Linked DNA regions of Homo sapiens. The protein of the gene in region 1 purifies or fractionates together with the protein of each later gene. This does not show direct contact. Each region holds a gene or a part of one and is shown on either strand. Other genes may lie near its edges.

The links. Proteins that work in one complex are often made in the same cells at the same time.
Region 2: the proteins of MANSC1 (region 1) and USP32 purify together in Homo sapiens (affinity purification with mass spectrometry; 2 studies listed by BioGRID and IntAct, with this or other methods). This does not show direct contact.

The regions. Positions count from the first base shown.
Region 1 is NC_000012.12:12,329,743-12,333,242, reverse strand, and holds part of MANSC1 (MANSC domain-containing protein 1 isoform 1 precursor), read left to right. Parts: intron 1-2,284; coding exon 2,285-3,216; 3' UTR 3,217-3,500.
Region 2 is NC_000017.11:60,224,634-60,228,133, forward strand, and holds part of USP32 (ubiquitin carboxyl-terminal hydrolase 32), read right to left. Parts: intron 1,599-3,500; coding exon 1,406-1,598; intron 1-1,405. UniProt on the Homo sapiens protein: Deubiquitinase that can remove conjugated ubiquitin from target proteins, such as RAB7A and LAMTOR1.

The sequences.
Region 1 (3,500 bases):
AAATTCTGTCTCTACAAAAAATACAAAAATTAGCTGGGCATGGTGGCATGGCATTGTGGCCCCAGCTGCTCAAGAGGCTGAGGTGGGAGGATTGCTTGAACCCAGGAGGTTGAGGCTGCAGTGAGCTGTGTTTGTGCCACTGCACTCCAGCCTGGGTGACAGAGCAAGACCCTGTCTCAAAAATATATATATATATATTTTCAAATATATTTCATTTGACCCAAATTCTACTTTAGAGTAGAATACTATATCCTAGAGCAGATGTCCACCAACTTTTTCTGCCAAGGGCCAAATAGTATTTTAGGCTTTTCACACCAGTACTTTAGGTTTTGAAATACAGAAATTTGAATTTTGTATACCTTTCCTGTGTCACACAATTTTCTTTTGATTATTTTTCAGCCATTAAAAGAAATATAAAAACTGGCCAGGCATGGTGGCTCACCTCTATAATCCCAGCACTTTGGGAGACCGAAGGGGGTGGATCACCTGAGGTCAGGAGTTTGAAACCAGCTTGGCCAACATGGTGAAACCTCACCTCTACTAAAAATAGAACAATCACCCAGGTGTGGTGGCACGCGCCTGTAATCCCAGCTACTCAGGAGGCAGAGGTAGGAGAATCGCCTGAATCTGGAAGGCAGAGGTTGCAGTGAGTCGAGATCATACCACTGCACTCCAGCCTGGGCGACAGAGTGAGACTCTGTCTCAAAACAAATAAAAATTTTAAAAAACGTAAAAACCATTCTTAGCTTGCAAGTCATACAAAGACAGATGGCAGGCCAGATTTGTCCATCAGGCCGTAGTTTGCTGAGCCCTGTCCTAGATGGACGAATAAGTGACAGAGTGACAGTGCAAAGAACCTCTCAGAGGGGTAAGGCTTAGAGAGTAGTCACGAGATGGCATGAATCCGTAGCTGCCTCTGGATCCGTCTGTAGGAAAGAGGAGACTGAGGACCAGTTTGGAAACTGGCATGGAGGTGAATTGAGGAAGAAAAAGGAAAAGAGAGCAGGAGTGAGTGGACTGAGAAATGCCAGGACATTCCTCTGCTTCTTTCCTTGTGTTTTCTGCAGTTCTAATGTGAGATGGTTAGCCTAGCAGCAGAGTGATACATGGCAATTCACCTGGTCATTCCCTGCACTTGATTGCTTGAACAGGTCTTTCCAGTTTGAGCTGTGATAAATGGGGTGTGTGATCAGGAGAAAAATTCTAAGCTTCATGGAGCAGGAGCAGGATCTGGGGCTGGTTTCTCCTCAGCAGGCATCGGGACTGTATGGTTTTTCTGCCCTCTGTGTCTACAGTGTGGTCATCATGATTTCAAATATTGGTCCCATCATCCTCATGACCTATGACATTGGCTCCAAAATTCTAATCTTTGAGAGTCCAAATGAAATCTCCCAGATAGCCTCCCTCCTCTGCGCACAGTGCTGGAACGATATATCTCTGGTTTTTTGTTGTCGTTGTTGCTGTTCTGCTGCTGCTGTGGCCTCAGTGCTCAGAGCGGAGACCAGACCCTGCCTGGCCCCTCCTCCTCCTCCCTGTCAGAGACACACCACAGGGATTCTGCTCCCTCTCTCCTGCTCTATTGCCTCATTTCCCACAGCTTCCACATACCTTTCTTGCCTGCCTCATGCCCCCACTGAAATCTCTCCTGATGATTACTTGCTCCCCATTTGTCATCTCAGTCTTAGGTGGCATGTCTTGCAGAAGCCCACACCTTCCCCCGCATTCTCCCTGCCAACCTTTCCTGCTCAGGTCACCCTCCGGCCCACTTTTTTCCCTGGCCTTGGCCCCTTAGGAAGACGGAGAACCCTTTCCATCTTTGTAAGCCTCTTGCTGCCCTGCTGAGCCCCTCCGGCTTCTCTGCTGTGCACCTCCCACCTTTTCCTTAATTTGCCTGGTCCTCCTCCACACATTTCTCTTCTCTTCTGTCCTATCATGCTAGAAATAAACCACAGCATCTGGTAGAGAGGCGGCGTTATCAGATTCTCATTTAGCAATTTGTGTTTTTCCATTTTGCACACATTTCAATGAAATGTCAAGTATCAACAGTTTGGAGATTTTTTTGTTTAAGAGACAGGATCTCCCTATGTTGTCCAGGCTGGTCTCCAACTCCTGGCCTCAAACCATCCTCCTGCCTTAGCCTCCCAAAGTGCTGGGATTATAGGCGTGAGCCACCATGGCCAACCAGTTTAGGGATCTTTTGAACAAGCTGATATGTTTGTATTTTTTTAACCTACCGTAGCATGGAGTTACATAAGCCTTCCTTTTATTTTCCATACATTTTCAGATTTTCCATCTTTGACCAGAAATTTGCCAAGCCAAGAGTTACCCCAGGAAGATTCTCTCTTACATGGCCAATTTTCACAAGCAGTCACTCCCCTAGCCCATCATCACACAGATTATTCAAAGCCCACCGATATCTCATGGAGAGACACACTTTCTCAGAAGTTTGGATCCTCAGATCACTTGGAGAAACTATTTAAGATGGATGAAGCAAGTGCCCAGCTCCTTGCTTATAAGGAAAAAGGCCATTCTCAGAGTTCACAATTTTCCTCTGATCAAGAAATAGCTCATCTGCTGCCTGAAAATGTGAGTGCGCTCCCAGCTACGGTGGCAGTTGCTTCTCCACATACCACCTCGGCTACTCCAAAGCCCGCCACCCTTCTACCCACCAATGCTTCAGTGACACCTTCTGGGACTTCCCAGCCACAGCTGGCCACCACAGCTCCACCTGTAACCACTGTCACTTCTCAGCCTCCCACGACCCTCATTTCTACAGTTTTTACACGGGCTGCGGCTACACTCCAAGCAATGGCTACAACAGCAGTTCTGACTACCACCTTTCAGGCACCTACGGACTCGAAAGGCAGCTTAGAAACCATACCGTTTACAGAAATCTCCAACCTAACTTTGAACACAGGGAATGTGTATAACCCTACTGCACTTTCTATGTCAAATGTGGAGTCTTCCACTATGAATAAAACTGCTTCCTGGGAAGGTAGGGAGGCCAGTCCAGGCAGTTCCTCCCAGGGCAGTGTTCCAGAAAATCAGTACGGCCTTCCATTTGAAAAATGGCTTCTTATCGGGTCCCTGCTCTTTGGTGTCCTGTTCCTGGTGATAGGCCTCGTCCTCCTGGGTAGAATCCTCTCGGAATCACTCCGCAGGAAACGTTACTCAAGACTGGATTATTTGATCAATGGGATCTATGTGGACATCTAAGGATGGAACTCGGTGTCTCTTAATTCATTTAGTAACCAGAAGCCCAAATGCAATGAGTTTCTGCTGACTTGCTAGTCTTAGCAGGAGGTTGTATTTTGAAGACAGGAAAATGCCCCCTTCTGCTTTCCTTTTTTTTTTTTGGAGACAGAGTCTTGCTTTGTTGCCCAGGCTGGAGTGCAGTAGCACGATCTCGGCTCTCACCGCAACCTCCGTCTCCTGGGTTCAAGCGATTCTCCTGCCTCAGCCTCCTAAGTATCTGGGATTACAGGCATGTGCCACCACAC
Region 2 (3,500 bases), on another chromosome or scaffold:
TTAGCTGTGTGTGGCAGTGTACACCTGTAGTCCCAGCTACCAGGTAGGCTAAGACAGGAGGATCATTTGAGCCCAGGAACTGGAGGTTACAGTGAGCTATGATCATGCCATTGCACTACAGCCTGGGCAACAGAGTGACACCCTGTCTCTTTAAGTAAATAAATAAATAACAATAGGGTAAGATTGAGGGTTCTGCTACTGTACCAGAATAACAGCAATCAACTCAATTCAGCTGGGCCATAGAAATACCACAGCATCTTCCTTGTAGGTGTGGAAACATGAAGTTTTAGGTAAGTACCAAGGCCTAAAGGGAATTATGGGAGGCATCTGAATTCTTTCTCAGTATTTTAACAAAATAATCTCCATATTTTGGCCTGAAATATACATAGAATCTGATGTGGGGTGCATTTAATTTAATTATGTTTATGGCTAGAGAGAGTCCTGGAGATGACTATCTTTGAAAATTTAAATTTACTGACTAAATAATTTAATAGCAATAGGGAAAGATGGGGCTTGATTGATGAAAATAGTGAAAATAGCCGCATGTGATGGCTCATGCCTGTAATCCCAGCACTTTGAGAGGCTGAGGCCAGAGGACTGCTTGAGCCTGGGAGTTTGAGACCAGCCTGGGCAACATGGCAAAACCCTATCCCTAAAATAAAAACACACAAAAAATGGCTGGGCATGGTGGCGCGTGCCTGTAGTCCCAGCTTCTTAGGAGGCTGAGGTGGGAGAATTGCTTGGGGCCAGGAGGCAGAGGCTGCAGTAAGCCGTGATTATGCCACTGTACTCCAGCCTGGGTGACAGAGCGAGATCCTGTCTCAAAAGAAAATAGTGAAAATATTTCCATATTGAGAGATTTAATGAAGTATAATATGGAAAAGAGGTTTTCTTTGTAAAAATACTAATATATTCAAGAATTTTACAATTGACCATTTCATTCAAAACTTATTTCTGTTAATGGAAGCCTGATCTCCTATTACCATATTCACTACAGCCTCTGTCAAATTAGACTGCCTTAATAACTATCCATGGGGAGGCCAGGCATGGTGGCTCACGCCTGTAATCCCAGCACTTTGGGAGGCCGAGGCAGGCAGATCACGAGGTTGGGAGTTCAAGACCAGCCTGGCCAACATAGTGAAACCCCATCTCTACTAAAAAAATACAAAAATTAGCCAGGCGTGGTGGCGGGTGCCTGTAATCGCAGCTACTCAGGAGGCTGAGGCAGGACAATCGCTTGAACCCAGAAGGTGGAGGTTGCAGTGAGCAGAGATCGCGCCACTGCGCTCCAGCCTGGGCAAAATGTGAAACTCAGTCTCAAAAAAAAAAAAAAAAAAGAAAAGAAAAGAAAGACCTATCCAGGGGGAATAAACCAATAAACCTCAGGGGAATAGGTCATATTTACCGCTGCCAGCAGTTTCTGAGGCTTCAGATGCAGTAGAAATGTTGTCTGAAAATTTCTCTTCTGTAGTATTCACGTAACTGAGGCTGCTTCCAATTCTATCTTCGACCTGCTCCATAGGATGGGCTGCAGTTCCAAATGAGTATTTTCCTCCATTCAAAACAGATGATGGCTCAATTACCACAGGGTTGGCATCCTAAAATCAGGAAATCAGAGAATAAGAAGCAAAGTTTATAATCTGACAACTATGTAGTCTTCAGAAACAAATCTCACAATTATCTATTTTTTTAAGTCTCCTGTGGTTGGCCACAGACATTTAAAAACATTCTAATACATAGCTATATTTTAATCTCTTTCAGGAGGAAAAGTATGTATATAGATAAAATTGGCAAGGTAGACAAAACAGACTGTGAAGGATTTTGTGCCACATAAAGTAATTTACACTCTATTCTGTTGGCAGCCATTTTTTTAACATTAAAAGTAAATAAAGCTTAAATTTTTTTCTTTTCTTCCTTATTTCCCATAGTACATGAATGTATATAATTTTTTTATTATTAAAGATTACATGGTCAATGTAGAAAATATAGAAAACATGAAGAAAATATCACATGTACTCAGATTCCATCATTTAGCAATAACTGTGTTTTAGTTCTTATGACTGAAAAATATGTATATATGTAAAAGATGAGTGGTGTATGTACATAGAGTGAAGGGCAATGCTATGACTTATACCTATGTGACCTTCTACAATAACTGAACACACCTTTAATCCCAGCACTTTGGGAGACCGAGGCAGATGGATCACTTGAGGTCAGGAGGCCAAAATGGTGAAATCCCATCTCTACTAAAAATACAAAAATTAGCTGGGGGTGGTGGAGGGCTCCTGTAATCCCAGCTACTCGGGAGGCTGAGGCAAGAGAATCACTTGAACCCGGGAGGTTGCAGTAAGCTGAGATTGCGCCACTGTACTCCAGCCTAGGCAACAGAGTGAGACTCTGTCTCAAAAAAAAAAAAAAAAAAAAAAATCATATTTTTTTCTTTCACCAAACATTGTATTGTTTATATAGTGCTAATATGCTAATCTAACATTTCATATTTTCTCTATTTCTCTTTTTAACAAAGAGAGAACAATCCTAAATAGCAGAGTCTTCAAAAGGCAACACTATTAGCTGGAATTTAATAATATTATTGCCTTCTATTTCTGGCAAGCGACACTAGTTTTCTTTTCTTTTTTTCTTTTTTTTTTTTTTTTGAGACGGAGTCTTACTCTGTCACCCAGGCTAGAGTGCAGTGGCGTGATCTCGGGTCACTGCAACCTCCACCTCCCAGGTTCAGGAGATTCTCCTGCCTCAGCCTCCCGAGTAACTGGAATTACAGGTGCATGCCACCAAGCCCAGATAATTTTTGTAGTTTTCATAGAGATAGGGTTTCACCATACTGGCCAGGCTGGTCTTGAATTCCTGACCTCAGGTTATCTGCCCGCCTGGGCCTCCCAAAGTGCTGGAATTACAGGCGTGAGCCACCATGCCCATTCAGTTTTTCTTTTCTTTTTTTTTTTTTTGAGACAGGGTCTCGCTATGTTGGCTAGGTCAGTCTTGAACTCCCGGCCTCAAGCAATACTCCTGCCTGGGCCTCCCAAAGGGCTAGGATTAAAGGCGTGAGCCACTGTGCCCAGTGGACATAAGTTTTCTACTTAAAGTAGTGATATAAAGTTTCCTTTGAAAATATGATTAAATAACTAATTAATCACAAACAGTTATAAATTTCTTTGTTCCTTGTCTGTTACCACTGCTTCACTTTAGTAGCCAAAAAATTTTTTTAAATTTTAAGTAAAAATGGCATAATTATTTATGTAAGTTAACTGTATGGCATTACATGAGAAAAATGGTGACCATAGTTTAAAAAAATGATTAAGAAGTAGGAATCTATATTACATATGAATTTTGGACCATCAATTTTTAAAATTTAGATGGTTCACCAAAGTAGTCAAAATTCTTTTTTTTTTTTTGAGACAGAGTCAAGCTCTGTCGCCCAGGCTGGAGGTCAGTGGTGCAGTCTCGGCTCACAGCAACCTCCGCCTCTAGCTTCAAATGATTCT